Regions from separate parts of the Homo sapiens genome. Here all the other regions are linked to region 1. Evidence: fine-mapped expression QTL. A gene starts in region 1. Each other region holds a variant in brackets. All regions are shown on one strand. Distances are between the middles of the regions. Region 1 holds the start of LMNTD2-AS1 (LMNTD2 antisense RNA 1). Region 2 overlaps HRAS (HRas proto-oncogene, GTPase). Region 3 holds the start of CDHR5 (cadherin related family member 5). Region 4 holds the start of PTDSS2 (phosphatidylserine synthase 2). Region 5 overlaps PHRF1 (PHD and ring finger domains 1).

What was found.
Region 2: its variant is fine-mapped to the expression of LMNTD2-AS1 in whole blood (TOPMed, PIP above 0.99).
Region 3: its variant is fine-mapped to the expression of LMNTD2-AS1 in sun-exposed skin (GTEx, PIP 0.96).
Region 4: its variant is fine-mapped to the expression of LMNTD2-AS1 in whole blood (TOPMed, PIP above 0.99).
Region 5: its variant is fine-mapped to the expression of LMNTD2-AS1 in tibial nerve (GTEx, PIP above 0.99). The same link has a PIP of 0.9 or more in gastroesophageal junction.

The regions. Positions count from the first base shown.
Region 1 is chr11:557,087-562,181 of GRCh38, forward strand. It overlaps LMNTD2-AS1 (LMNTD2 antisense RNA 1), which reads left to right and starts at 2,176. Exons shown (of 2, transcript NR_147607.1): 1 at 2,176-2,390; 2 at 2,693-3,020. It overlaps LMNTD2 (lamin tail domain containing 2), which reads right to left and starts at 3,652. Exons shown (of 14, transcript NM_173573.3): 1 at 3,597-3,652; 2 at 1,770-1,893; 3 at 1,528-1,680; 4 at 1,075-1,162; 5 at 798-953; 6 at 486-554; 7 at 313-401; 8 at 1-11. The coding sequence starts at 3,630. RASSF7 (Ras association domain family member 7) reads left to right here and starts at 3,884. Exons shown (of 6, transcript NM_003475.4): 1 at 3,884-4,391; 2 at 4,676-4,806; 3 at 4,993-5,095. The coding sequence starts at 4,683. RefSeq lists enhancers at 1-425, 4,687-5,095.
Region 2 is chr11:526,543-532,530 of GRCh38, forward strand. HRAS (HRas proto-oncogene, GTPase) reads right to left here. Exons shown (of 6, transcript NM_005343.4): 6 at 5,700-5,980. It also overlaps a transcript of LRRC56 not described here. Among named protein-coding and RNA genes, the nearest start is that of HRAS, 6.0 kb to the right of the region's middle. RefSeq lists an enhancer at 1,963-2,500. The variant T/C (reference allele first, on the strand shown) is at 3,425.
Region 3 is chr11:621,066-627,053 of GRCh38, forward strand. It overlaps CDHR5 (cadherin related family member 5), which reads right to left and starts at 3,890. Exons shown (of 15, transcript NM_021924.5): 1 at 3,753-3,890; 2 at 3,492-3,667; 3 at 3,148-3,198; 4 at 747-839; 5 at 497-598; 6 at 280-390; 7 at 15-185. The coding sequence starts at 3,837. It overlaps SCT (secretin), which reads right to left. Exons shown (of 4, transcript NM_021920.4): 2 at 5,823-5,924; 3 at 5,632-5,724; 4 at 5,244-5,465. The coding sequence ends at 5,366. RefSeq lists an enhancer at 5,650-5,988 and a silencer at 5,744-5,988. The variant C/T (reference allele first, on the strand shown) is at 3,609.
Region 4 is chr11:449,072-455,059 of GRCh38, forward strand. PTDSS2 (phosphatidylserine synthase 2) reads left to right here and starts at 1,208. Exons shown (of 12, transcript NM_030783.3): 1 at 1,208-1,566. The coding sequence starts at 1,385. RefSeq lists enhancers at 708-1,394, 993-1,272, 5,856-5,988 and silencers at 1,303-1,542, 1,733-1,792, 1,803-1,892. The variant C/G (reference allele first, on the strand shown) is at 2,805.
Region 5 is chr11:590,729-596,716 of GRCh38, forward strand. PHRF1 (PHD and ring finger domains 1) reads left to right here. Exons shown (of 18, transcript NM_001286581.2): 5 at 656-739; 6 at 1,831-1,946. Among named protein-coding and RNA genes, the nearest start is that of PHRF1, 17 kb to the left of the region's middle. RefSeq lists an enhancer at 4,773-5,272. The variant C/G (reference allele first, on the strand shown) is at 2,314.

The DNA.
Region 1 (5,095 bases):
GCCGGGGCTGCCTGTGGACCACGCTCTGCTTGATGGCCACTCCAGCTCCAGACCCCAGCCCTGCCCCCGTCCAGCCTCACAAGGCAGTGCAGCAGGGAGCCCCTCTTGCCTCCCAGTACCCAGGCTCAGTTCATGGCAGGACAGTGATGGCTGCCTCAACCCCAACGCATTCTACAGATCAGAGAACGCGCATTGGAAGGTTTAAGAGACTTATCCAGGGACACTAAATGGTCCTTTAGTGTCCTGCGTCTTCACTTGCCAAGGTGAGCCCTCCCTTCTGGCCCCTGGGGAGTCCCTGCTCTGTGCAGTTACTTTTGCTTTGAGCTGGGCTCCATGTTGGTGAAGAGGTTGGGATACCGGCGGGCAACGCTGTTCCAATCCACGTCCTCCAGCCGAAAGCCCTGGCCAGGAAGCAAGAGGCACATGGTCCTCCCCTCCCGCAGGGCTCCAGATACCAGACCACACACGTGGGAGGCCTAGCTCACCTCCCCGGTGGGGGCCTGAATGTTTTCAGAGAGGTCGCTTGGGTCCATCAGAGTCTCTGCCGTCACTACCTGCAAGAGGGGACCGGAAGCCAGTGGGCAGGGGCTGGGTGCTCCCCTACAGCACCTCTCCTCTTTGACCTCACCTGTGCTTTGAGGCCTCCTGATTCCTCCCTGCTGGAGCCCAGAGTTCCAGAGGCACCTGAGCAGGGCAGGCTTCCAGGCAGGCCAGGGCGCCCCAGCAGAGGCACCCGACGAGATGGGGAGGGCTGGGGAGGGCAGCCTGGGGCAGGAGGGCTTGGGGGACAGGCTCACCTCCACACTGCCAGTCTGGGATCGTAGCATGCGGCCCACCCACGAGGAGCGGGCCAGCTGCAGGAGGCAGGACTTCTGCAAGTTCTGCAGCTCGGCCTCCATCTCCTGGAGCGTGCGGGTGGTCTGCAGCAGCCGCTCCTCCAGGTGCTCCTTCTCCTGCTCCGAGAGGGCCTGTGGTTGGTGGTGGGGGGGTGTCTTCTGCAGAAGGCCCCCAGGCCAGCCCCAGCCTGGCTCCCCAACACCAGGACCCTGCCCACTCCCTGTGCCCCTGCCTCACCCACTGGGCTCGCTCCTTCTGTTCCTTCAACTCCTGGATCAGCTTCTGGACCTGGTTCTGCAGGAGTTTCTCCTGACTGTGGGAGCTCCTGGAGGAGGGGTGACCTCAGCAGCCCCCACCCTGCTCAGGCAGGGGTTCCTAATGTCAGGTCAGTGGCGAAGGAGGGGAGAAGGAGGGGCTCCACTGCCACCTTGGCCCCAAGGGCACACAGTACAGCCCCGCTGGGGCTGGCCAGCCTCCGGCTGGTCTGGACAAGGGTCTAGCACCCATCCACATGCGCAGGGTTAGGGTGGAGGCTATAGCGTGTTAACTTAGGATCAGGGTGGAGGGTCAGCGCGGGCAAGGATGAGGGTAAGGATCTGCCTCAGCGGTTGGGGTTGGGGTCAGACAGAAACCAGGAGTCCGGGCGAGGACAGGGCGGGGTTGGGTTGGGCTGGGGACTGTGCTGCAGACCTCTTGGGCGGAAGCCCCGCCACCTCTTCCAGGATGTGGCAGAGCCGGGCGTCCTCGCCATTCTGGATGGCCCACCGCAAGGCCTGGATCTCCAGTTCTCGCTGTCTCCACAGCAGCCGCAGTGTGCGAGGGTCCAGGGACTCAAGAGCCAACCTGCAGCGGCAGCAGACCCTGCTGCTTACTCAGGCCGGCCCCTGGCCACCTGGCCCAGGAGGCTCACCAGTCCTCCCTCTCCTCCTTACTGCGGGTCGGCAGAGCAGACCACCGGTGCGGGGTGGGGCGTGGTGTCTGGCAGGCACGTGGGAGTCTCGGGGGCTGCAGGTGCGCCTGCTGGAGGTCCCAGGTGACCACTGACCGACTCTTGCTCTGTGGGGGACAGGAGAGCCTCTTCCTCGGTTTCTTCAACCTCCTGGCCAGACTTGGGGGCCATTCTCAATGTTCTTCGGGAGCTGGGAGGGGTGGGGGGCCCGTCTGCCGTGTGCGCCTCGTGTGGCCACACAGGTTGGAGCAGCCCAGGCGTCACCACTTACTCACAGAGCGTTGCTCTCTGAAGGGACCCACATGTGGGTGTCCACACCCGTGTGTTTCTGACCAGGCTGGCGCAGCAGGTCACCACCCGACATGTCCCTGGCGTGTACCCCTGCCACCCAGGTGCTGGCCCTTTGCCTGTGATGTGGTGTCCCTCTTTCTCTCTCTTGTCCCCCCAGCTCAGGGCCCTACCCCCAGCACTCACCTGAGGCCCGACCTCCAAGCAGGCCTGGGAGGGAAGGGCTGTATACCGTTGCCATGGATACCAGCACCCAGAAGGGGTGGGGCTGTTTGTTACCAGGAGCCTCCAGGGAGACCCCAGACCAGGCCCCTAGGTGAGTTCTGGGCCAGCCCAGCCTGGAGGAGGTGTGAGAGGCTGAGCCACTGCTCAGCTTAGCGGGGGGACCACTTAGTGACCAACACCCTGAGGGAGGCCCCAGCATCCCCTACCTAGCCTGGCAGCAGCAGCGGGATAAATAGGGGGGCACTGCTGCCTGTGAGCCAGCCCAGCATAGCCATGGGTGTGTGGGGGAAGCAGACAGGTAACAGTGACAAGCTGGGGACTGTGCTGAACGCTAACTGGCAATAGTACACTCCTGCCCACAGCCTGTTTTTAAATTAATAATTAATTCTTTAGAGACAGGGTCTTGCTCCGCTGTCCAGGCTGGAATGCTTCGGTGTGATGACAGCGCACGTTAACCTCGAATTCCTGGGCTCAGGTGATCCTCCCACTTCCGCCTCCTGACTTGCTGAAACTACAGGCACCCGCCTCCACCGCCAGGCCCAGCCCACAGCTCCTTTGACCTCAGTGACAGGCACTCACCTACCTGACCCCCAAACTGAAGCCTCACTTTTCCCAGCCGTGTCCACACCCTCTGGGCTACCCCATTACCATGACAAGTATTCCCTCTGCTCCAGGAGAAAAGCCAGGTCCCAGACCTGACCCATTAAAACCCAATCATTCCAGCTTTCACCCTTCATCTCTGCAACTTTCGGCTATGTAAGGGCTCCCTGGGGGAGCACAGGAGACAGGCGGGCAGGAGGCCCACGCCCACAACTCTTTCTGAGCTGGGCAGAACAATCAATGGCCCACACAGCTGACCGCGAGGCTGCGGGGCCCTGGGCGGGACAGTAGGGTAGGGGGTGAAGGAGCGGCTTCCAGCCAGCTTCACTGTGTGCATGGCCTGGCACTGGGTCCAAAAGGGGCAGGAAGGTGTCGGAGAAGAGCCTCAGCTAGAGTCCGGGCCTTCTGAGCGGGCACCTCCCGCACCAGGACTCTGCGCCCGCCAGCTCCGCAGGGCTCCACCTCCCTCGCCGGGACTGGTGACCCTGCGACCCCGCGACCCCTGCGCGTCCAGACTACTGCAGCTGCGGTAGGCCCCAAAGGCTGGCCCGGGAAGCGAGGGGAGGGGCTGGCCCCGCTGCCCCTGGACGCAGGCGGGGGTTGCGGGATCTCAAGCCAGAGACCCTTCCTGGGCGGGAACCCGCCACACTAGAAGGCTGCTGAGGAAGTCGGCCCAGGAGCGGGGCCAGACACCTACCCCGACGCCTGCCCGCGGGCCGCAGCCACCGCATTTCCGCGTTTTTCGCGGTAGGCGGGAGGTGGGGGCGGGGACTGCGGCTCGGCGCCCCCCTCCGACCCGCCCACACCTGTAGTCTCGGGGGGGGCGGGGCGCGGCGACGAGCCAATGGGTCGGGGAGGGGCGTGACAGAGGCAGCCAATGGGCGCGGGGAGGGGGCGGAACGCCCGCGCTGAGCAGCCAATAGGGGTGCTAGGGGCGGGGCGTGCGGACCGCGGGCCAATGGGGGCGCGGGGCCCGGGTGCGCCGCGGCGCTGGGGGCGGCAGGTTGCGGCGGCGCCGGAGCGGGTCTCCAGGCTGGCGAGCGCCCAGGTGAGCCGCGCCGGGTCCCCGGTACTTGGGAGCGCGGGGCGCGCCTCGAGCCGGCCGGACGCCGACTCCAACTGGGGAGAGTTTTCCGCGATGCCCGGACGGAGAGCGGGGGCGGCGCCGCACCTGCGCCCGCCCTGCGGAACGGGGACGCCCTGGCTCCCGCCAGGCTGGGGTCGCGGCGCGGGCTTCGGTGCCCGCGGCGGGGACCGGGACTTTCGGGGCGAGCGCAGCGATTAGGCGGCAGCGGCGGGGCTCCCCGGGCTGGCGGGGGCTGCTCAGACCCGGAGTCTGCTCCATCTGCAGGGTCGAGGTCTGGGTTGCGACCCCGAGCGCCTCTGCGGCCTGAGCAGGTCGGGGTGGGGCGTTCCCATGCCGGCGGCCGCGGGGCCTGGCGTGCGGGCGCCTCCGCGCCGCCCGGGGAGGGGGCAGTGTCCTCCGAGCCAGGTGAGGCGAGTAGGAAATGCTGGATCTGGTTAATGATTCGCCTTGTTCCGGGAGTGCGAGCGTGGCAAGAGGAAGCTGGTGAAGTGGGGGAGGATGCGTGCTCCGGAGGGCCGCCACCCCAGGAATGTGTGGCTGGCGGGTGGGGCTGGCACAGGAGGGTGGGGCCCGTGCGGAGGGGCGGCAGCCCAGCCGTTTCTAGGGCAGGCCAAGAGGATGAGGAGAGGAGGACCAGCCTGCGATAGGAGTAGGCAGGTCCTGACCCGGTGCCTGCGCCCTCCCCACAGGACAGGCATGTTGTTGGGACTGGCGGCCATGGAGCTGAAGGTGTGGGTGGATGGCATCCAGCGTGTGGTCTGTGGGGTCTCAGAGCAGACCACCTGCCAGGAAGTGGTCATCGCACTAGCCCAAGCAATAGGTGAGTCCTCTCGGGGTCAGGCAGGCCGGGCAGGTAGAGCTGAAGTGGGACCTGGTGGTCCAGCTCCATGGTCTCCCCCAAGGAGAGTGGGGCTGGTTGCTGATCCTTTTTGTTCTTCCCAACTCTTCAAGCCAGGTGGACAGAGAGTCGGGGGGACATAGGCTGACCTTCTCCTCTTCTTCCCAGGCCAGACTGGCCGCTTTGTGCTTGTGCAGCGGCTTCGGGAGAAGGAGCGGCAGTTGCTGCCACAAGAGTGTCCAGTGGGCGCCCAGGCCACCTGCGGACAGTT
Region 2 (5,988 bases), 30 kb before region 1:
AATGCCTATGGAGGAGGCTCCAGTCGTAACAGGCAAGATCTGGCAGCAAACTAAATATTCTTTAGCAGGTGAACAACCTGTGCTACATCCCTACAAAGAAATACTGCTCAGTGGCCGGGCACGGTGGCTCATGCCTGTAATCCCAGCACTTTGGGAGGCCCAGGTGGGTGGATCACCTGAGGTCAGGAGTTGGAGACCAGCCTGGCCAACATGGCAAAACCCCGTCTCTACTAAAAATACAAAAATTAGCCAGGCATGGTGGTGGGCACCAGTAGTCCCAGCTACTGGGGAGGCTGAGACAGGAGAATTGCTTGAACCTGGGAGGCGGAGGTTGCAGTGAGCCAAGATCACGCCACTGCACTCCAGCCTGGGCGACAGAGCGAGACACCGTCTAAAAAAAGAAAAAAAAAGAAATATTGTTCAGCAAAAATGCACAGGCACACACACCAATCTTCTAATGTTAGAAATTTTGGGACTGGCCAGGTGCGGTGGCTCACGCCTGTAATCCCAGCACTTTGGGAGGCCGAGGCGGGCAGATCATGAGGTCAGGAGCTCCAGACCATCCTGGCTAACACGGTGAAACCCCGTCTCTACAAAAATACAAAAAAATTAGCCGGGTGTGGTGGCGGGCACCTGTAATCCCAGCTACTCAGGAGGCTGAGGCAGGAGAATCACTTGAACCCAGGAGGTAGAGGTTGCAGTGAGCTGAGATCGCGCCACTGCATGCCAGCCTGGCCAACATCAAGACTCCATCTCAAAAAAAAAAATTTGCAACGTGCCGTGTGGCACTGTGCTAACCACGAGCACCTTGCGCAGTGAACTCTGGGACTCACGCATCTTCCCAGACTGAAATCTGTTATCAGTTGAACAGCAACTCCCAGCTCCCCTCCCCAGCCCCTGCCCACGGCCACCCTACTTTCTGCTTCTGAGTTTGACTGCCTCACAGCAGAGAGTCATGCACTTGGCAAAACGATAGGGTAAGGGTTTTGTTTAGTTTTGGTTTTTTTGAGACGGAGTCTTGCTCTGTCCCCCAGGCTGGAGTGCAGTGGCGCTATCTTGGCTCACTGCAAGCTCTGCCTCCCAGGTTCACGCCATTCTCCTGCCTCAGCCTCCCGAGTAGCTGGGATTACAGGCGCCCGCCACCACGCCCGGCTAATTTTTTTTTTTTTTTTTTTGAGACAGAGTTTCGCTCTTGTTGCCCAGGCTGGAGTGCAATTCCGCGATCTCGGCTCACCGCAACCTCCACCCACTGGGTTCAATCGATTCTCCTGCCTCAGCCTCCCAAGTAGCTGGGATTACAGTCATCCACCACCACACCCGGCTAATTTTGTATTTTTTTAGTAGAGACAGGGTTTCTCCATGTCGGTCAGGCTAGTCCCGAACTCCTGACCTCAGGTGATCCGCCCGCCTCGGCCTCCCAAGGGCTGGGATTACAGGCGTGAGCCACCGCACCCGGCCAATTTTTGTATTTTTAATAGAAACAGGGTTTCACCGTGTTGGCCAGGCTGGTCTTGAACTCCTGACCTCAGGTGATCCACCCGCCTCAGCCTCCCAAAGTGCTGGGATTACAGGCTTGAGCCACCGTGCCCGGCCTGAAACTCTACATTTTTATCCAGGCCTCCCTGGATGGATGTTGGGAGAGTTTACGCGTGGCCTTGTGGGATCGCTGTGGCGGACTCTCAGCTATCAGAGGGCTCCATCACTCCATCGTAAGGAGGCAGCTGGTGGCGAGTCCTGAGCAGGGATGTGATCCGACGGGCAGGCGGCGCCCGGGACAGAAGCTGACGTCACACAGGTGAGTCCCCCACCTCCCCACAGGCTTCCTCCACCCCCTCGGCAGCCCAGCAGGGCCTGTCAATCAGTGGGACCTGGTCAGCTGGCTGCTAGGGGACCTCAGGCAGGGGGGCTTGTCCGCAGGGCCTCCAGCAAGGGGGGACATTCATGACACCCAGCAGGGCTCAAGAAGGTGAGACAGAGGGACACTGAACCCAGCCCTTTACAGAAGACCTGAGTCCACCGAGGAAGGGGGCCAACCCCCTCCCCGCGTCTGCATCCCCAGGACCACCCCGGGTGGAGAGGGCCGAGTGTGGTGCCTCCGCGGGTGCTCTGACGATCGTCTCGAGCCACGGGGGTGACAGTGACAAGGACCTGTGTGCACGTTAGTGGGGCAGCCAGGCCTAGCTGGAGAAGAAACACACACACGCACACGTTCACCCACATACACGTGCACACACATGCTGCCAGTTCAGGGGGTGGAGGACGCTGACTCCAGGCCCAGCTGACCTGCGCGGGGCCCTATTGTGATGTGTGCAGCCACCCCATGACGTCACCGGTGCCAAGTGCCGGCTGTGTGCGGAGCAGTTGGAGACACAGTGGGTGTCCGAGGGGGGGCTCTGCGTCCGGAGGTGAGAGGTGGGTCTCAACACAGCTGCCCTCCCCCATGGTATGGTGACAGTCACTAACAGGTGGCCTGCGCTGGCCTCCACGTGGCTGCCAAGGGCCATCCCTGAGCACTCAGCGGGTGCCTGTTCCACACGGACTATGAAAATGACTGTCTCGTTCACCTCACGGCGACCCCGTGGGGTGGATACGAACTCACGCCATTTGACAGGCGAGACGTCCGAGGTCAGAGGGGAGGAGACGGACCCGACCTTCCTTGGCTGTGCTCTCCAGCCCTGTCCTGTGCTGGACCCAACCTAACCTCTGCAGCCTCCCTGCCCTGGACACAAATCTGGCTGAGACCCCAGACCCTGATGGGGCAGAGCCTGGCACTGGAGGAGCCACCAGGATGGGCCCCTGTGGGTGTGGGCAGAGGGTGATCCTCAGTTCAGGTTTTTGCCAGAAGATGGGTTCCTGCAGGAGGGGGTCTCAGCAGCTCAGACTTCAGATGCGCTCACTGCTGCTCACTGTGGGACAGCCAGACACGGAGCCCTCTGTTCTCCAGCAGTTGTGGACAATGAGGGATCCCTGGAGGGATGCCTGGTGGGCAGCAGGAGTCCCTCTTGTGGGTCAGGGTGCGGGGATGGGCTCTCCCTGCAGGGACTTCCCAGTCTTGTCCTCTGGGATTGGCAGTTTGCAGGGGTATCCTCGGCATCAGACCAGGGGGGCCACACAGGGACCCAGATCTATGGGGCCCAGCCCCGGGAAGACCAGATGGGCTCAGTGGAGAAGCTGACCACATCTGCTTTCCTTTCAGCCAAACCGGGGAGCGTCCCGGCACCCAGGCCTCTGCGGGTAACCCCAGGCATCAAGACCCTCCCTCAAGGGGAGGAGCTGGCTCTCCCCTGCCCATCAGCACAGCTCCAGAATCCCAAGGGGTCAGCTCCCACATGGGGGCCTGGTCCTGCCACACACTGGCCTAGCTGGGCTGTCCCCGAGGCCAAGGCCTAGCGGCATGAGGGGGCTTCCGTGGAGCCCAGGGCAG[T/C]GGGCTGCTCTCTGGAGTCCCTAGGACTCGGGGTGTGGCTGGCCTGTCCCCAGATCAGGACACACCCCAGGTTGTCCAGTGGTTCCCGTGCTGGAACTCCTGTTGAAGCCACCCAGGGACCTGGATGCTTCCCACAGTTCAGCATGGAGCAGGGGTGCTGGGCCCTGACCCCTCCACGTCTGTCCTGGACACCCCAGGACCACAGCACAGGCCCAGCCCTGCAACCCCAGCGGGGCCCTGATACCAGGCCCTGCCCAGCCCCGTAATGACCAAGAGGCAGGTCCAGAGATACCTCCTGCACAGGGTCACCTGCATCTGACGCCCCCAGCAGGCAGTGACCAGCACGGTGTGGAAGGAGCCAGGGTGGCACCCGGCAGCCCTAGAGGGCTCCTGGCCTCGGGAAGTCTATCGATGGGGAAGCTGGTCACTCGGAGGCTGCTGGGGAGAAGGGGGAGTGTGGCATTCCCTGGACAGAAGGGCAAGTGTGGCGTCCCCTGGAGAGAAGGGCGAGTGTGGCGTCCCCTGGAGAGAAGGGCGAGTGTGGCGTCCCCTGGAGAGAAGGGCGAGTGTGGCGTCCCCTGGACAGAAGGGGGAGTGTGGCGTCCCCTGGAGAGAAGGGGGAGTGTGGCGTCCCCTGGAGAGAAGGGGGAGTGTGGCGTCCCCTGGAGAGAAGGGCGAGTGTGGCGTCCCCTGGACAGAAGGGGGAGTGTGGCGTCCCCTGGAGAGAAGGGGGAGTGTGGCGTCCCCTGGAGAGAAGGGGGAGTGTGGCGTCCCCTGGAGAGAAGGGGGAGTGTGGCGTCCCCTGGAGAGAAGGGCGAGTGTGGCGTCCCCTGGAGAGAAGGGCGAGTGTGGCGTCCCCTGGACAGAAGGGGGAGTGTGGCGTCCCCTGGAGAGAAGGGCCAGTGTGGCGTCCCCTGGAGAGAAGGGGGAGTGTGGCGTCCCCTGGAGAGAAGGGGGAGTGTGGCGTCCCCTGGACAGAAGGGGGAGTGTGGCGTCCCCTGGAGAGAAGGGCCAGTGTGGCGTCCCCTGGAGAGAAGGGCGAGTGTGGCGTCCCCTGGACAGAAGGGGGAGTGTGGCGTCCCCTGGAGAGAAGGGCGAGTGTGGCGTCCCCTGGAGAGAAGGGCGAGTGTGGCGTCCCCTGGAGAGAAGGGGGAGTGTGGCGTCCCCTGGACAGAAGGGGGAGTGTGGCGTCCCCTGGAGAGAAGGGCGAGTGTGGTGTTCGCTGGAGAGAAGGGCGAGTGTGGTATTCCCTGGACAAAAGGGGGAGTGTCCCTGCAGCCCTGGCCAGCCAGCGGCATGCCCTGCTAGCTCTCCCCCAACCTCAGGGATAGGGAACCCTGACAGGGCACAAGTCCCCGTCCCAGAGGGGCCTGGCCCAGCCTCAACCCGGGCCCTGGGAGGGGAGGGGCACCAGGGGCGCTGTGGGCCCCCAGCAGAAGCCAGGATGACCACACAGGGGACTGAGCTGTCTGTGGCTGTGGCCAGACCTAGAACTTGGCCCAAGGCAGGGCAAGCCCCTTGGAGCAGAGTGGGTGGCAGAGCCTGTGTATACCCAGCAAGGCTGAGCCAGTGACACTACCAGGCTCCAAGAGCAACCAGCCATGAGGCAGGCGTGGGGCAAGGGTAGGGTGAGGGCAGGGGCGGGGGAGAGTGGGGCAGGAGCAGACGGACCAGCTGCCAACCTCGTCCACTCCAGGAGGCAGGGATGGCCAGGCTCCCACGCCCTACTGGCCGCTACCCGACCACCAATGAGGCAGAGGCCTGAGGCCAGTCGGTGCTGGAGCCCTACTTCCAAGGTCCACAGACCGCTTCAGGCCACAGAGCCGAAGAAAACTGGGCATGTGAAGGCCCAGGAGGCGGGGTCCCTATGTCTGCCATTCTTGGCAGGTGCATTTCACGCTGGGAGCAAGTCAGGAAAGGTGATGCCTCTCACCGCCAAGAAGGCTCCCAGCAGAGACCAGAGCCACCGGCACAGATCCCCAACCCCTGAAACCACCTCCCTCTGGAGGACCAGGACGCCCTCCTAGTTGGTAGAAGCACAGTAAGCTCTCTGTCCTTATGATCTGCCTGCTTGTCCAGAGCTCTCTGCCAGAAGCCGTGGACACTGGGGCAGGCGGGAGGAGAGAGCACCACAGCCCAGACCCCTGACCGGCCTCTCCCAACCTCCCCCTCCCAAAGGCTATGGAGAGCCCAGGGCTGGACAGGCCTGAGGTTCCGACATACCTCATGCCAGGCCACACGCGCACCGTGTCCCACCCTCAGCCGAAAACCAAGATCAAGACCATCCAATAATTTACTGTGATCCCATCTGTGCCCGACAAGGGCCCACAGAGGCCTGGGAGGGGAGCTAAGGGCTGGGGTTCCGGTGGCATTTGGGATGTTCAAGACAGTCTGTGCACAGCCTCCCTGGGAGGGTCTGCAGTCACCTCGGCCCACGGTCCCGGGGTGACTGGGCTCCAGCAGCCCTTCCTTCCTTCCTTGCTTCCGTCCTTCCTTCCTCCTCCTTCCGTCTGCACCTCCTTCCTGCATCCGGCACCTCCATGTCCTGAGCTTGTGCTGGGCGG
Region 3 (5,988 bases), 64 kb after region 1:
TCCCTCCCCATTACCAGTATGTGCCCCGTGGGGACAGCCCCGTGGTACTGAGCTTGAATGCAGACGTAGCCATCTGAGAAGGTGCAGGGCAGGAACCACGGGGGCCGCAGGTCGGCGGGCACCACGTTCAGCACTAGTGTGGCGGTGGCAGTGTGGCTGGGTTCCACATTCTCCCCCGGAGTGTCCTGCAACAGACGGCTGTGCTGGATCAGGCCTGGGAGCAGCTGGGGCCGGGGGGCCTCAAGTGTGTGGGACTCGGGGCTGGGGTGACCTGCTCACCCGCACCAGCAGCCAGAAGGTCATGTTCGGCCGCTCGTAGAAGTCCAGGGGCCGGTCCAGCCTCAGGGCGGGACGGTTTACACTCACCAGGGAGAAGTAGTCACTGGCACCCTGGGGAGGGTCAGGGAGGACAGAGCCTAAGAGCCTTGGAGGGCGAGGGCGGCTGTGGGTGTCAGAGGCGAGGGGCTCGTGCTGGGGCAGGGTGGGCGGCACTGACTGCTGTCATTTCCTGGAGGGTGTAGAACAGAATGTCGTCCTTGTCGCGGTCCTCAGCCTGCAGTTGCGTCTCGGGGATGACGGTGGAGTTCACTTTCGTGTCCTGGGGAGGGAGAGGGGCTTGGTCCGGCCACACTCTTGGCCCCTGTGGACCCCCACTGTGGTTGAGCCCCCGGCCACCACTCACCTCCTGCCCTCACCCTGGGCTCCCACACCCCCGTGCCCAGTCCCCGCGGCTTCGCTGGCCTCACCTCCTCCACCCTTATCTCCTTGGTCTTAAAGGGGAATTCGGGGGCATTGTCATTGACGTCCAGCACTGACACGAACACCCTTAGCTGGGTCACCTGCAGGATGTGGCCGTCAGCCTCTCCCACAGCCCCTCCCCGTTGTGAGGTGCACCCCTCGACGGCTATCCGTCCCCACCGTGAGTGAGGTGCACCCCTCAACGGCCACCTGTCCCCGCCCTAAGTGAGGTGCACCCCTCGACGGCCACCCGTCCCTGCTGTGAGTGAGGTGCACCCCTCAACGGCCACCCGTCCCCGCCGTGAGTGAGGTGCACCCCTCAACGGCCACCCGTCCCCGCCGTGAGTGGGGTGCACCCCTCGACGGCCATCCGTCCACTCGCTCATTCAGTTGTTGGGGGGCTACAGGGGCTGCACAGCTCTAGGCGTTGGGATTCAGAGATCACAAGAGACAAATCTCTGCCTGGTGGTGCCTGTCCTGGCAGGACTTATAACAACAGACAAAAAGGACTTTATAAAGCCAGGAGGTGGCAGGTGCTCCACAGAAAAATAATGCAGGTACTTGGGGATGCAGCCAGCAGAATCTCAGGTGAGGAAAGACAATCCATTTTCTTTTCTCTGTTTTTTTTTTTTTTTGGTTTTTGTTTTTGTTTTTTGGTTTTTGGGTTTTTTTGGATACAGTCTCGCTCTGTCGTCACCCAGGCTGGAGTACAGTGGTGTGATCTCGGCTCACTGCAACCTCTGCCTCCCAGGTTCAAGCGATTCTCCTGCCTCGGCCTCTGCCCACCTCGGCCTCCCAAAGTGCTGGGATTACAGGTGCCTGCCACCATGCCCAGCTAATTTTTGTATTTTTAGTAGAGACGGGGTTTCACCATTTTGGCCACATTGGTCTCGAACTCTTGACCTCAGGTGATCTACCCGCCTCGGCCTCCCAAAGTGCTGGGATTCCAGGTGTGAGCCACGGCGCCCAGCCAGGACTCTTCTTTTTAGAACATAACCACAATGTCGTTGTCACACCTGGGAAAAGCGGTCACTTTCTACCTCAAATGTCCAGGATGCCACATTCCCCGTGGTCTCTGAAGGGTTTTTTAACAATTGTTTGTTTGAATCAGGGCCCACATTATGGACCTGGTTGGTAATTCTCCTGAGTTTCTGTTCATCTGTACCTTTCCCTTTCTCCCATCTTTTTTCCTGGAGATTTATTTGTGAAGAAACTGGATTGTCAGCCGGGCACGGTGGCTCACACCTGTAATCCCAGCACTTTGGGAGGCCGAGGCGGGCAGATCACCTGAGGTCAGGAGTTTGAGACCAGCCTGACCAACATGGAGAAACCCCGTCGCTACTAAAAATACAAAAATTAGCCGGCCGTGGTGGCGCATGCTTGTAATCCCAGCTACTCAAGAGGCTGAGGCAGGAGAATCGCTTGGACCCGGGAGGCGGAAGTTGCAGTGAGCCGAGATCGCTCCACTGCACGCCAGCCTGGGTGACAGAGTGAGACTCTGTCTCAAAAAAGAGTCTCTCTCTTTCAGAGACATATCCCAAGATATGTGCAGGTGACGTGCCGTGGTGCATGGAGGGCACAGAGCCTGCTGTGTGCTGGTAGGTGAGGGGGCCTGTGCTGGCCTCAGGATTCTGCAATTTTCCTTAATAAAGCCGAAAAAAATGCCGCCGGTCAAGAAGCAGGATGTTGGGGGAGCGGGGCTGGGATGCAACAGGGCATAGGGTGGTTGGGATTTCTCTGAAGACTGCAGTCCTGAGCCGGTGAGGGAGGGGCGTGCCTGGCGGGAGCCCTGAGGCTGCAGTGGAGCCTCTGCACAGTATGTCTGGGTTTGACTCGGTGAGAAAGGAGCCGTGGAGGGCTGGGGTGGGCTGGGCAGCCTTGGTTTACAACATCCACAGGGGCTGTTCTGCCACGTGGAGTGGACTGGGGCCAGCAAAGGGCAACAGGGAAGCCGGTGGGCCAGCTGGAAGTTTCCCAAAATGAGTGCTGGTGTCCCGGCCCTGATGGGACTGGAGGTGGACAGACTCTGGATTTCTGGGTCGAGCTGGGGCACAGCCAACAGATTTACCAGTGGGGGGCTGTGGGGGACACGTGGGGAGGGAGGGCGAGTGGGAACCAAGGTGGTCCCCGTGACTGGCAGGATAAAGGTGCCTCCCTTGTGGATGGTTGAGGGAGTGGGTGGGAGTCTTGGGCACACTGGATGGGGTGTCTGCTGGACAAGGGGTCAGTGACGGGGACTCCACAGCTCAGGGCAGAGTCTGGACTGGAGGAAATGTGGGCATCACCCTCGGGGGGGTGGAATTTGAAACCACACCCTAGCTGACGTCATCAAAGACTGGTCCTGGACCGGCAGGGCAGAGCCCAGCAGAGGTGGCCGGGTGGGGCGGGGAGAGCGGGGCGGGGACTCACCAATGTGCCTCCGCTCTGACACAGCAGCTGAGCCTCAAGCAGTGACTTCTCCTGTGGATGTAGACAGGTCTGCAGTCACCGTCCTGCCCCACAGGTGGGGAGACTGAGGCCAAGTGGGCAGGCGCTGGCCCAGGGTCCCCATCATCAGTGGTCAGTGCTGAGGGTGTGGGCCCAGGCAGCTTCATCCCGAAATGGCCCAGCCTTCTAGGGCAGGCACCACCAAGCATGGGTGTCAGTGGATGCCCGCAGGCATAGAACTCCTAGGCCCCCAAGGGAGGTGTGGCCTGAGGATGCAGGTGCCCTTCTCCCGGGACCCCCATATCCCGCCCGCCTGCCGCCCACACCTCGTAATCAGGAGTCACGTTGAGAAACAGCTGGTTTCCCTGGATCCGAAATGCAAAGGGGGTGGACAAGGCTCCGAGGGTCACCTCCTGGCCCTCCGGGACGTGGATGTCCACCAG[C/T]GGCTCGGTGACATTTGTGTTCTCCTCTACTTCAAAGATGTCCTTGTTCACAGAGCAGTCTGTAAGGTTGCAGAGGAGGGATCAGTGCCTCCCAGCCCCTGGCTCCCCGCCGCCCGTGCCCCACCTACCCCTGCCCGCACATACACTGGGCCTGGGCCATGGTCCCCGGGGGTCGGACGAGCAGCCCGGTGAACAGCAGGGGAGGCCACAGCAGGGCCCAAGACCCCATCTTGGCGGCTGTCACCTGGCAGGAGGGTCTGAGCGGGTCTGGCGTCTAGGACTGGCGCAGTTCCTACCTCAGCGACCTTCGCCCCAGCCAGACGCCGCCCAGTTTATGATCCTTTACGACCGGCTTCTGCCAAGGGGGCTCCCGCTGGCCGGCTGGTCCAGCCCACTGCCAGAAGGAGGGGCAGTCGTTTGGCCCAAGTTGGACTGAGTGCAGGGGTCAACCAGGGGGCTCAGGTCACAGGCACCGAGGCACAGGGCAGAAGGGACTGGAGAGCGGCTCATGGGTGCCGTGGGGGTAGGGGCAGGGCAGGGGCAGGGCTAGGGTGTGGGAGAGAAGCTGGGGGCTGGGGGCGGGGGCTCGGCCCTTGGTGTCGGGGTGTCTGGAACCTGCCTCCCTAGCCCAGGCTGCCCTGGCTTGGCTCCTCCCCTAAGATCTCCCTCAGGCAAAGTTCCTAAGGCCACCCCTTGAGGCTCAGAACCCGGGTGTTCCCCAGGGAGCACCTCCCTCCCTGCCTGACAGCAGGTTCTGAAGGAAAAGGCTCTCCTCACTGTGTCCTGGGGACACCCCTGCCTGCCCCAGAGACAAGTCGGCTTCTCAGGGCGGGGCTGGACAGGGCCTTAGTGACTGAGGCTAAGGCGGGGCTGTGAGGGGCAGCTGGGAGTTCCTGGGGGGCCCTGGTGCCCGACAGAGGGGGTGAGGTGAGACTCGACACTTGCCCTGCTCTTTTCATTGGCCCCCCAGAAGCCCCCAGCTCTAGGGAGAGGCCACTGGGTAGGGTCGGGGCGAGGAAGTGGCTGTCGTGAGGGGTAGGTGGAGTTCTCCTCCTCCAGGCCTGTGCGCCGAAGCTTCTGGCCTCTCATGGCTGGGGCTGGGCTCAGTGTCCTAACCCTGCACGGTGCCCTCATGGTCGCCTTCAAGCCCTGCACGCTCCGTGCTCCACAGGCTCTGAGGGGTCAAGCCACTGGTCCGAGGCCACACGAGACAGAGGGTCCGGAGTCCTCACGCCAGAGTGGATTCCTGGCACCCCAGGTGACACCTCCACCCTCCCCTCTTCCTGCCCGCCTGAGCCCCCCTGGCCCCTTCACACCCTCCCCACTACCCCTTACAGAAACACTGACCACATGGGCCCCCGGGCAGGAGCTGAGAGGGTGTCCGGGATCCCCCGAGCCCCAGAATGTTTCCTAATGGATGACAAGGGGTGGGGCGGGGCCCTGCAGTACTTAGTCGAGGTACAGGAGGTGGCCCTGATGCCAGAGATAAGGATGAGGGGCCGCCGTGCCTGCAGGTGTAAAGGGCAGCTGGGTGTGGTCAGTCCCTCCTGGGTGGATGGGCCTCCATCCATCCCTCAGCCCCGCTACACAGGGGTTGCCTCGATTACACTGAGTGGACACAGACAACTCCCAGCGTCTGGGTCTGATTCCTCCTTTATTGGTGCCAAGTACCACCCCTCCCCCTCTCCCCCATCCTGCCCCCCACCCCAAATGCAGCTGCGCTCCTGGGCCGGGCAGGTGGTGAGGGGGTTCCTTCCTCATCTGGGCCGCAAGGTTCCTTCTGCAGCAGCGCCAGCTGGTTCTGAAACCATAGGCCCAGGGGGCAGCCAGGGAGACCAGGTCCCGTCCAGGGGCATCCTGCAGAGACAGCACGTGAGGGTCTGAGGGCTGGGGCTGGAGACCCCGGCCCCGCTGCTGGAATTGGGCCTCCAGTGGCCACCAGCGCTGACCCGGGGAGGCCAGGACAGAAGGAGGGGTCTGGGGTGGGGTCTGGAGTGGGGTCTGCGGTGGGGCGGGTGCTCACCAGGCCTGCAGGATGGGCATGTTGGACCCTGACGGGCAGAGCAGACCCGCGCTGAGCCTGGTCCAGGCCATGCTGTTCTCTGCGTCCTGCTCGCTGCCCCCCGCCCCAAAACAGAGTTAGTCCTGGAGCTGGGGGGTCGCGCGTTGCTGCTGGGGCACCACGCCAGGACCCCCCACCCCACCCGGCCTCACCTGCGCTTCCCCACCAGGCCCTGTAGCAGCCGCTGGAGCCGCGCGCCCTCCCGCAGGCGGCTGAGCTCGCTGGTGAACGTCCCGTCTGAGTGTCGCCGGGCCCTGCGGGCGGTCGGGGGTCGGGGTCAGGGCGCACTGGGGGCGGGTGGGGCCCGGGGGGCGGGCG
Region 4 (5,988 bases), 110 kb before region 1:
TTTTTTTTTTTTTTGAGACGGAGTCTCGCTCTGTCGCCCAGGATGGAGTGCAGTGGCACAATCTCGGCTCACTGCAACCTCCACCTCCCGGATTTAAGGGATTCTCCCACCTCAGCCTCCCGAGTAGCTAGGATTACAAGCGCCCGCCACAATGCCAGGGCAATTTTTGTATTTTTAGTAAAGATGGGGTGTCACCACTTTGCCTAGGCTGGTCTCGAACTCCTGACCTCAAGTCATCCGCCCGCCTTGGCCTCCCAAAGTGCTGGGATGACAGGCGTGCGCCGCCGCGCCCGGCCTGCCTAGCATAATGTTTTCAAGGTCCAGCTGTGCTGTAGCATGCGCATGCTTCGCTCCTCTATGGCTAATAACATGCCGCTATTATCAAAATGCTGCAACTAGGAGCGCTAGTGTGTAAATTTGGCGTGGACACTTGTTTCCAGGTTTGAGGAGCTGCCACATTGCTTTTCAGAGTGGCTCAGGAGCTAATTTTTTTGCAGGGTACCATGTCAACAATTTGGGTCAACTAAAATCAGCGTGTCCGCACCATTTTCGCCCGCCCAATTTCACGCGATCCTGCGAAAGAATGACCCAGACCGGTCCGGGCGCGGTGGCTCGCGCCTGTAATCCCAGCACTTTGGGAGGCCGAGGCGGCAGATCACAAGGTCAGGAGTTCGAGATTGGCCTGGCCAACATAGTGAAACCCCGTCTCTACTAAAAATACAAAAATTAGCCGGGCGTGATGGCGGCCGCCTGTAATCCCAGCTACTCGGGAAGCTTGAGACAGAAGAATCGTTTGAATCCGAGAGGCGGAGGTTGCAGTGAGCCGGGATCGCGCCATTGCACTCCAGCTCGGGCGGCAGTGCGAGACTCCGTCTCAAAAAGGAATGACCCGGGTCGCATGGGGTGAAGGGTCGGGAAGCGCCCCAAAAGGAGAACGGGGCTGGGCTCCGGGATCCGTCGGCGAGGAAGGGGCGAAGGGGTGGAGGGACTCGGGCCAGGCCGCCGGGGATGTCTGTGGTTACCTCCAAGCTCTGGAGGCCTTGGCGAGACCCGCGCCATCCGCAGCTTGGTTCCTGCGACCTCAGCCGCAGGGCGGTCCGGCTCCGGTTTCCCAGCAACCAGGCGTCATCCTTCCCAGCAAGCACTGCGTCCAACCCGCGACGTCGGACCACAAGGCCCAGCATGCCCCGCGCGGACTACAAGCCCCACAATGCACCGCACACCCTTTACTGGCCGGCCCCGCGCTGCTCTCCTAAGACCCCGCGGGCCAGCGCCGCGACCCCTTCCCAGCGCTCCTCGCGCTGTGTGCGGCGCGTCCTCTCGCCGGTGACCCGGTGTGCGTGGGGTCGAGGCGCCGGGCGGAGTGGCTCCGGGCCGAAACGCCATGCGGAGGGGCGAGCGCAGGGACGCCGGAGGTCCGCGGCCCGAGTCCCCGGTGCCCGCGGGCAGGGCCTCGCTGGAGGAGCCGCCTGACGGGCCGTCTGCCGGCCAAGCCACCGGGCCGGGCGAGGGCCGCCGCAGCACCGAGTCCGAGGTCTACGACGACGGCACCAACACCTTCTTCTGGTGAGGGCAGTGGGCGGCCGCGGGGCGGCGAGGGTGCCCTCGACCTGGGGGTTCCGGCACCGCTGGCCTGGGGGTCCCCGGCAGCGCCCTCTCGCCGTCTTGGAGTCCAGGACTGTGGCCGGGGGTTTGAGGGTGTGGCAGCACCGCCCCCCGGGTCCCGGGGAGCGGCCGGACCGAGCTCCCGACGCCGGGTCGGGCGGAGGGCGGCGCTGTAGGTGGGGGAGACCCTGGGCAGACCCTCCCTGCGGCCGCTTTGCGTCTCTCTCGCCGCCCTCCCCACCCCTGCCCGCCTTGGCTCTGACCGCGCGGTTCTGCGATCCAGACCCCTTCCCCGCCACCCGCCTCCAGCGTCACCCCAGAAACGCTTTCTCTGTCCTGCTGTCGAAGCTTCACCTGTGTCCCCCGTCATTCTGCCTGTGGTTGCTCCTCAGTGCTTGCGGCTGCACGAAATCATCTTGTGTGTCGCGCCCGACCCCACGTGGCGATCGTGTTGATTAGCAGAGTGTTGTGCGTGCTTCAGGAATGTAGTCGGTGTTCGTCGAATCCAGGCTCTGTTTCTCTCCTCAGTTGCCCCTAGCGGGGCCAGCGCCTCCTCCCTGCACAACTCAGCCCTAGCTACACCTTGGGGTCCCCCTGTCCGCCACTCTGCCTTTAATGGGGGTGGAAAAGGAAGAGGCCCCCGGGAGCAGCTGGAGTGTGGCACTCTGTGTCCAGACAGGCTCCAGGTGCCGCTCCTACTCCCGACAGCTGCGACCCTGGGCTGGCCCTTTGCCGATGCTCCTCTGTGAGAAGGATCAAGCCGTCGACCTGAAAGCAGGCTTCGTGAGAGGAGGGTTTGGCTCTTCTTGACTGCAAGGTGCCCAGTTCCCATCCTGTGGAAGGCCCGGGGGCACAGGGGCAGTAGAGGTGGGGTCAGCCCCAGGAAAACGTGTGGGAGACAGGCGCCTGCGGCCAGCAGTGGAAGGAAGGCTTTATGGACGCTTCCAAGAGAACCATGCTGTGGGATGGTCGGAGAGCAAATCTGAGGGGCGAGGAGGGCCTGATGGAGGAGTAAGGGACTTGTCAGGGGAAGGCGCCACCACAGACAGGGACTTAACCGGTCCTGGCCTGTCACCGCAGCCGAAGCTCTGGAGAGAGACTGTCCAAGTGGTGGGAAAGCAGGTTAGGGTGGAGGAGGCCCCACGCAGGGTCTTCCGTGAGGTGTGGGCAGCTGCTGTTGCAGGGAGGGCATCCGAGCT[C/G]TCCTTTGGGGAGATGAGTGTACCGGGTGGCTGCGGGGCCCTCGGGAGGGAGAGGAGATGGGGTGCCTGCCACGTGGACCCTCTGGCTTCCGGGCCCTGTGGACATCAGGCCTCTCCATCAGGTGCCCTGCCACACCCCTTCAGGCTGTCCTCCCGCAGCACAGCTGGGGACCACCGGAGTCTCTGAGGTCCTGGAGCAAGGAGACCAGACTGGCTCTTCTGAGGTCCCGGAGCAAGAAGACCAGACGGGCTCCTCTGACATCCCGGAGCAAGGAGAACAGACGGGCTCCTCTGAGGTCCCGGAGCGAGGAGACCAGACTGGCTCTTCTTGTTTCTCATTTGGCCGTTCAGCACATTGTGGGGACCCCTACTGCCTGTCAGTTACCGTTCTACGGGACATAGCAGAGAACTAAACAAGAAGCTTAGATTCTGGTGCAGGCATGGAACTTCAGAAGGCTCAAAATGTGCTGGCTGGGTGCTGAGTGTGGCAGGAGCCAGGGGGCACATGCAAGCCTGCGCAGCCCACCCAGTACCAGGGAAGCAGGAGCAGCAGCCCAAAGGTAGGAGGGGGCCGGTCTCTTTAGAAGCCCAGACCAGTGGTCCCTGCCCACAAGGGGTGTTTGGGACACAGACGGCTGGGCGCAGCAGAGCTTGCCTGTCAGGAGGCCAAGGGGGTCAGGAGGGCTCTCCAGGAGCGGGTGCAGCGGGGCTGGCTGGTCCAGGTACCTCCTTCCTGGGTCTTCTGGGTGGGTGGCTCTGGCTCTGGCTTTCCCCTCGACCCTGTCCCTGTAGAGACGCATGGGGCAGGTTCTTGCTGTGCCTCCTCCCTTCCCTGTGCAGAGGAAGGAGCTTCACGCTTCTGGGTGGCAGGTAACTCAATGCCTGCCTGGTGAGAATTCATTACCTGCAGAGCCTCACACTGACCTCCTGAGTCCACCTGCACTGACTTGCTGTGCTGGCATTTTTTTAACTCTAATTTTGTGTTTTAGAGAGTTTTACTTTTTATTTTTTATTCATTTTTATTTATTTATTTATTTTTAATAGAGGGTCCCCCTGTGTTGCCCAGGCTGGTCTTCAACTCCTGGCCTCAAGTGATCCTTCCGCCTCAGCCTCCCAGATTGCTGAGATTACAGGCATGCACCACCACATCCAGCCAGGGCGTTCATTTTCAAGGATGGGTGCACTTCCTCGGGCCAGTGACGGCGGCCATGTGTGAATTTTGTTTCTCTGTGACTGCTTGTCAGCCATAGGGATAGGGCGTGCGGTTCGATTCAGGGCTTGACTGGCCCTGGGAGCACGAGGCTGAGCTCTCCTTCTCTGGATTCATTCAGGGTAGCAAGGACAATTATGGGGAACATCCAGAGGAAAACGTTTAGATCCACAGACTCCGAGAAGCCCTGTGCGAAGATGTGGCAGCTCATGCGGTCTGGAAATTGTTTGGGAGAACACTTGGGGACCCCTTACCCTGGCGAGGTGCCTGTGAACGTTGCCGCCTGTCTGTGGGAGACGCTGAAGCAGCTTCGGATGACCACACTTGCTAACCAGTTCCCGAGCTGGGGGCCACTGTGATGTTCTGAGAGTTTTTATTGTATGCTTGTGTCTTGGAATGGGGTGCCTCAAATGAGCCTTCTCAGTGACCTGAGGACTTTATGTGTGAGGTGACCTCTGACCTTCAGATACCCCAGGTTTCTGGAAGATGCCTTTCTCCATCATCCTGGATCGGGGCTTTCCCAGCTTTGCCTACACCTGGGAGGCGCGAGTAGCCAGATGAAGTCTTTCTGGTCTTGCTGGTCAGAGCCAGAAGGGCCAGTGCCCGGTCCAGGAGCCTCTCGCAGGCCTTGGGCTGCCCATCCAGGCGTGGCCTTTCCTTGGCCCTTTGGACGACGACGCCGCGTTTTCCTCTTGGTCTCGGCCTCCCTGCCCACCATGAGAGTGGACATGAGAGTGACCATCTCCAAGGAGGCAGCTGGGTCTTTTCCACTCCCCATGGCAGGGAGCCAGCTGTCTTCACGCCCTCACCCTAGTGAAGTGGCTGAATTGCCAGGATTGATCACAGCTCTGTTCTGTGTCTGATCACAGGACATACACCGTCCTGCAGAGTCTGCAGGCGGGTGGGAGGAGCCATTGAACAGACCTGGCGTCCTGGGAGGGACACGGAATTCTTCCCTTGAGAGTCTCATGCTATCTTGAGCGGCACTCTGTCACTTCCAAGATGTGTAGACGTCGTGCTGCGTGTAGGACAAGGACTGGAGCTCACTAATACGGACCTTACTTTCCAGGAGCGTTGGATTTGAGCAGCTCTGAGATGTGTCCTCCTGCAGGGCTGCTGTGCCTGGTGCCCTTTCTCTGGGTCCCTTACCCTCTGCCTCCCTTCCTGTTGGGTCCTCTTCATTCCCATTTCTGCTTCCCCAGGGCCAGGAGGGTGCTGGGCACTCGGTGGCCACCTCAATGACAGTGTGCACATTTACCTGAAGGGGCGAAGGGTTACCTTTATATTTCAGGTAATCTCTGTGTTTTGGGGAAATGGAAAGATGGTGTTGGGTTAGGGTTGATCAATGATCAGCGTTTCCCTGGGCTACACAAGGAGTGAGTGTTGGGTTGGTGGCCACTTTAGAAACCACAGGAAGGTCTCTGTCGTGGAAAGTCGTATTAAAGGAGTCAAGTTTTACGCCTGTAATCCCAGCACTTTGGGAGGCCGAGGCAGGTGGATCACGAGGTCAGGAGTTTAAGACCAGCCTGGCCAATATGGTGAAACCCGGTCTCTACTAAAAATACAAAAATTAGCTGGGTGTGGTGGCGGGCGCCTGTAATCCCAGCTGCTTGGGAGGCTGAGGCAGGAGAATCGCTTGAACCTGGGAGGCAGAGATCGCGCCAGTGTCCTCCAGCCTGGGTGACAGAGCAAGACTCCATCTCAAAAAGAAAAAAAGAAGTCAAGTTTCAATTTTAACTTGTGTTAGTGTGTGATCCTGTCTTTGTGTGCTGTGGAACTTGGTGCTGGTGGGACACAGGCTGCTCACCCCATCCCTTGAGCTTTGCGTTTATTCCTGGGATTCTGCATGTGAATGGGAGCCTGTGCTGTATCTGGGAGATGCTGACTGGGTTGCAGGCACGTCCGAGGGTCAGGGTGGGGCCGAGTGCAGCCTCCTCCTCCAGTGGGCCTGTGTGTGGAGTGGTGGCATTCTGG
Region 5 (5,988 bases), 34 kb after region 1:
GTTTGGCTCTTGTCACCCAAGCTGGAGTGCAGTGGCGCCATCTCGGCTCACCGCAACCTCAGCCTCTCGGGTTCAAACGATTCTCCTGCCTCAGCCTCCCGAGTAGCTGGGGTTACAGGTATGCGCCACCACACCTAGCTAATTTTGTATTTTTAGTAGAGGCGGGGTTTCTCTGTGTCAGTCAGGCTGGTCTCGAACTCCCGACCTCAGGTAATCTGCCTGCCTCGGCCTCCCAAAGTGCTGGGATTACAGGTATGAGCCCCTGCTCCCGGCCTATGAAAAGAAATTCTAAAAATTTACTAGTGAATGTCCAACAATCTTTTGGAAAAGTTAGCAGAAGACTTGAACAGGCTCGCCGCAGAGGGGCCTGTGCACAATGCCGCCCCCACGCCTGTCCTTCCTCCCTTTATTGTTCTTACTTGTCACTGAGATGCTACGCGTTCATGGAGCTGCTCTTTCCTCCCCGCTAGGGCTGGCAGCTCTGCAGGGAGGCAAGGCTCGCTGTGCTCCCTCCACTGCCGTGTTGCCAGCAGCTTAGTGGAGGGCCTGGCGCATGGAGGCATTTAGCAGATACTTGATTTTCAGTGTAAAAGAATTTTTGATCTCTAAGTGAAAGTGATTGACAAGATTCTGATCCTGTTTTTATTTCTCACAGAATGCCAATTCCTGTCCAGTTGATCGAACTCTATTTAAGTGCATTTGTATTCGAGCTCAATTTGGTGGTAAAATCTTAAGAAAGGTGAGTGTGGACGCTGCCGTGGAGGCCCCAGCCGTGCTTCTATCCCGGCCCTGTGGGACAGAGCATGCTTTCCAAAGTGGGCTTGCTCTCCTGAAATGAGGGTTGGTTAAATGCTTCATAGAAATCAACTCAAGTGCCCCTTGTGGCCATGAGCCCTGTCTGGGGGGTTTGGGGTCTGGGTTGGGGGTTAGAGGCAGAGATATTGCCAGCTCCTGGGATATCCCTTCGACCCCACCCCTGTACCCATCACATCTGGGAGCAGTGCTCTGGCCCGTCTGCTCGGAGCTCTTTATTTTTGAGACACCATCTTGCTCTTTCACCCAGGCTGGAGTGCAGTAGCACAATCACAGCTTACTACAGCCTCAATCTCCTGGGCTCAAGCAATCCTCATGCCTCAGCCTCCTGAGTAGCTGGGTCCACAGGCATGAGCTACCACACCCGGCTGTTTTTTTTTTTTTTTTTCCCGAGACAAGAGTCTCGCTCTTTTGCCCAGGCTGGAGTGCAGTGGCACAATCTCGGCTCACTGCAAGCTCTGCCTCCTGGGTTCACGCCATTGTCCTGCCTCAGCCTCCCGAGTAGCTGGGACTACAGGCACCCGCCACCACGCCCGGCTAATTTTTTGTATTTTTAGTAGAGACGGGGTTTCACTGTGTTAGCCAGGATGGTCTCGATCTCCTGACCTCGTGATCCACCCACCTCGGCCTCCCAAAGTGCTGGGATTACAGGCGTGAGCCAACGTGCCCAGCCTTTTTTTTTTTTTTTTTTAAGAGGCAGATCTTGCTCTTCCGTGGCAGTCCAGCACCTGCTGCCTCGCCCTACTGCGGCCCACTTTGGGGCCGCAGGGCTTACCCGCTCCTTTCCGTGCATCATACTTTGTTTTCTGTTGAATACTTTCCTCTTAGATCACCACCCTGAGATGGTAGAAAACATAAAAATCCCTGTGTACACGTGGAGGGAGACCCTCTGGGCCTGTGGAGCCCAAATATGAATCTAAGGCAATGGGTGGATTCTGGATTAACTGCGTTTCACGCTGGGAAGTGACTGCGGGGAGTTTGGGTCCTGTGTGGTGGTGACCGACGATTCTGTCCTAGATCCCAGTGGAGAACACCAAAGCGAGCGAGGAGGAGGAGGACCCGACCTTCTGTGAGGTGTGCGGCAGGAGCGACCGTGAGGACAGGCTTTTGCTCTGCGACGGCTGCGATGCGGGGTAAGGGACGGTTGGGACTGGCACACGTGCCCTGCTGCGTGCAAGGCGGGCCAGGCGCAGGAGGGATGCAGAGCCTCTTCGCTCTGTGAAGTCTGAGTCCCAGCACCTGGAGCTGTGCTCACCACCCTCAGCAGCGCGGTTCAGTCCTGCGGGCCTTCCTGTTACACTCATTTACACTTCAGTCTTTCCCCAAAAAACATTCTGAGGCTGCCCACAGAAGTGCAGGTAATACATCAAGACAAAAAAGAAAACAGCCGGACAGGAGGCTGTGGGGCTGGTCAGCCAGAGGGTGGGACGTGTCCTGGTCCCGGCCTTTGTGGGGGAGGGGTGGCTATGCCTGCGTCCATCATTCTGGCTGCCTTGGTCC[C/G]TCACCTTTCACCCTGCTCCTCCTTCACCCTCTGGTGCATGTCCAGTTATGCTGCACCTGCTGCTCTCCCTGGCACAGCTGAGAGCGCCTGCTCTGGCCCTGCGTGGCCCTGGCTTCCCGGGAGCCTGTGACACTTGTCTCCTCATCCCTGCTTTGTGTCGTTGGCTGTAAGCAGATGCCCCCTTCCCCGTTAGCCTCCTGCGAGGGGCTTTCCCTGTTGATTTGAATAATTTTTCTGCTGTGAAATTATGGAGAGAGGATTCTGGAAATCTTTCCCTTGTTGAAAGAACCAGTGAGGCTGCTCGATCTGGGGCCTTCTCTTGGGTGGGAAGTAGCTGGGTCAGGGTTTGGACTACGGAACAGCCGGAGCCAGGAGGCCTTGACGTGCCGCGGCTGGAGCCGCACCGAGGATGGGCTCCTGGTGAAGGCCTTTGCTCTGTGGCGGGTGGTCCCGGTCGTCCCAGCTTTGACTCGTCCTTGAGCACAGCCGCTTGTGCCCCCACCTGTCACCTCGTTGTTAGCCACATACCCAGGCCTCTGCTCCACTCACGCTGTTGTTGGTGCAGGAATCGCTGGCTGTCCTTTTGCAGACACTGCAGGGGCCTCCTTGGGGGTCCTGCAGGCGGCCACCACGTTTGTCTCATCGTCAGTTCGCCCTCCTCCTCATGGCCTGTGGGAGTACAGGGGCCTTGCAGTGCGCTCCGCCGGCCCTTCCAGGTCCCCAGCCCCTGCTTGGTCCTGCCCTCTGCTCCCAGCAGCCGGGAGATAGCCACGCCTCTGCTCACATTCGCAGACACCTCGCCGTCCCTCCTTTCTCACGAGTCTGAGCCTAAATCCATGTTTTGTGAGTTTCCTGAGTGCTCTGCCCTGACGGTCCTCACCTCCTCAGGGTTCCTGGGAGCGTCTGCTGCCAGTTGCCCCGGCAGGCACTGAGTTGGTTGCTGTGAGTCTGAAGGGCAGGGCTGCTGCCTTGACTATCCCAGCAGCCTGGTCATTGCAGCCCTGGGCACAGTGCTTATTGGCTGTTGATTACTGACTTACACCGTGAATATATGCAGAATGCTTAAAAAGAAAAAAAAAGGTGGAGGGGTGGCTCAGCACTCCATGCCCATGTGTAGGACTGGTCCTCTTTTGTCCTCTTTACCTGTGGCTGCGGCCACTCTGGGCATGTGAAGGAAGGGCCTGGGCTGGCCTGGAATCGCTGGACACGGCCTGAGAGACCATGGCATGATAGACCTGGTCCTGGTCGCCACAGGCACCGTCTTGGGCAAGGCCCTCATCGCAGGCCAGGGCCGTGAGCCTTCTAGTGGCTCGAGGGCAGCTGGTAGGCCAGTTTTCACGCACAAAGCCTGGTTTTCCTGTTAGCTTTTATTTTACTCATTTACTTATTTTTTTCAAGGCAGAGTCTTGGTCCGTCATCCAGGCTGGAGTGCAGTGGCGCCATCTTGGCTCACTGCAACCTCTGCAGCGAGTCACTGCAACCTCTGCAGCGAGTCACTGCAACCTCGGTTCAAGGTTCAAGTGACTGTCCTGCCTCAGCCTCCTCAGTAGCTGGGATTACAGGCACATGCCACCACACCTGGCTAATTTTTGTATTTTATGGAGAAACGGGGTTTCACCATGTTGGCCAGACTGGTGTGGAACTCCTGGGCTCAATTGATCCGCCCACCTCGGCCTCCCAAAGTGCTGAGATTAAAGGCGTGAGCCACTATGCCCAACCTAGTTGTAGTACCTTCTAACAAGGCTCTTGGGAATGTTTACAGCTTAATTAAAATTTTTTATTATAAATTACATTTACAAACTTGATATATTGATTTTCTTTCTACCTACACTACTTGAATTACTTGGCAGATAAAACAACGCAAGTACATAAAAACCCTGGTGGATCTAAAACATTAAAACTGATCAATATAACGATTCTCATACTTCTAAACATTTCCATACTGTTACAATTTGCAGTCTGCCAAATTTTCAGTTAAGTCTGACTTAAAAATCACACGTCTAAAATTACTCAGTTCCTCATGTCAAAATGGAATCACAGTAGGCCGAGGCGGGTGGATCACCTGAGCTCAGGAGTTCGAGACCAGCCTGGCCAACATGGCGAAACCCCGTCTCTACTAAAAATAAAAAAATTGGCCGGGCGTGGTGGTTCACACCTGTAACCCCCGATCCTTGGGAGGCTGAGGCACGCGAATACCTTGAACCTGGGAGGCGGAGGTTGCAGTGAGCCGAGATTGCGCCACTGCACTCCAGAGAGACTAAAAACAAAAAACAAAAAAACACTATCTGTAGATACACTGACATTACATGAAATAAGATACAGTTTCTGATTTTTTTCTTTTTTAAGTTACAATCTAATTTAAAAGTGTGTGTTCACCAGGGAGGCAGTGCAGGGGCTCACTGAGGCCTGTTAGGTGTGGCCCTCCCCTCCCTGGGCAGGTCAGATCTGAGCACCTTCAGCTGCAGGGCCACCAAGCTCCCTGTGCAGGTGGAGCCATGGGTGCCTGCACCGTAGCTGGGCAGGTCTCGGCAGCCCTCCTTGTCCCCGTGCTCGTATTTAAACTTGCAGCCAATCTCCTCTTCTCGGGGATGAGTGTGGGGGACACAGGCCTGGCCTGGCTGTGGATGGGCGCCTGCCAGGCGCAGAGGGGCCTTCTGCTCGGGCCTCAGGTGAGCCGCAGCCTCCTCCAAGGCTGCTGGAGCTCAGTGGTGGGAAAGTGGGTTGGACGTTTTCAGACTTTGGAATTCTTTGAAAGAAGGTACTGCTCATCCTTGCCTTTGTCCCCAGAGAACTTGTATAAGAACAGATGTTAGGGGACCTAGTTAGGCTCTTGGAGTGCCCCCACCCGCCGCCCCCCTCTGCTGGCCTGGCAGGGCGTGTCGTGTGCCCGGGGCAGTCGGCTTCTCTTCCTGCATGCCTGTCTCCTGTCTTTCTTGTATGGCCCTAGCAAGGGCCACACAGCAGACACCTTCTCATAGGTGCAGGACTCTTGGGAGAATGGGTTTACTCTTGTTTAACTCGTATCTTAGATCCTAGAACAGTTCAGCCCGTGGTAAGTGGTAGTTAAGTTCAGTTGAATTCAGGCTCAATTTTCAGGGAAATCATCAGCTTGACTCCCTTCCCTTGATTGTTTTTGCCTTACTCAGGGCTGTCTGGGGTCTTTGGGATGAAGTTTCAAGGATCTTTGCATAGACTCCCGAGCCTCGGCTGCTTGGAGGGGCACATATACCTCATACCAGTGGCAGCACTTCCCAAACTACCTTCCCAGAAGGCTCGATAGAAACAATTAAAACATAGTTTCCTTTCAGCAAAGAAACCTTCGCCTTCTTCAGTGGCTTGGTGTGAGGTGCAATGTTTGAAAACCCGGGAGTGAGGGTGGGGGAGACAAGCTCTCTGGGAAGGGGGCCCCACAGGCAGCACCTACCGCAGGAGCTCAGTGTGAGCCACTGTCGGCCTGTGGGTGTGTGTCGTGTGTCGCAGCCAGCTCAGTTGCTGTCAGGATACCACAGGCTGGGCAGCGTAAACCGCAGGTCTTCCTTTTCTTGGTTTTGGAAACTAGACATCTGAGATACCAGCAGGCCTGGTTCCTGGGGAGGCCCCCTTCCTGACTTACAGACGGCCGCCTCCCCGCTGTGACCTCACCTGGCCTTCCCTCATCTAAGGACACCAATCCT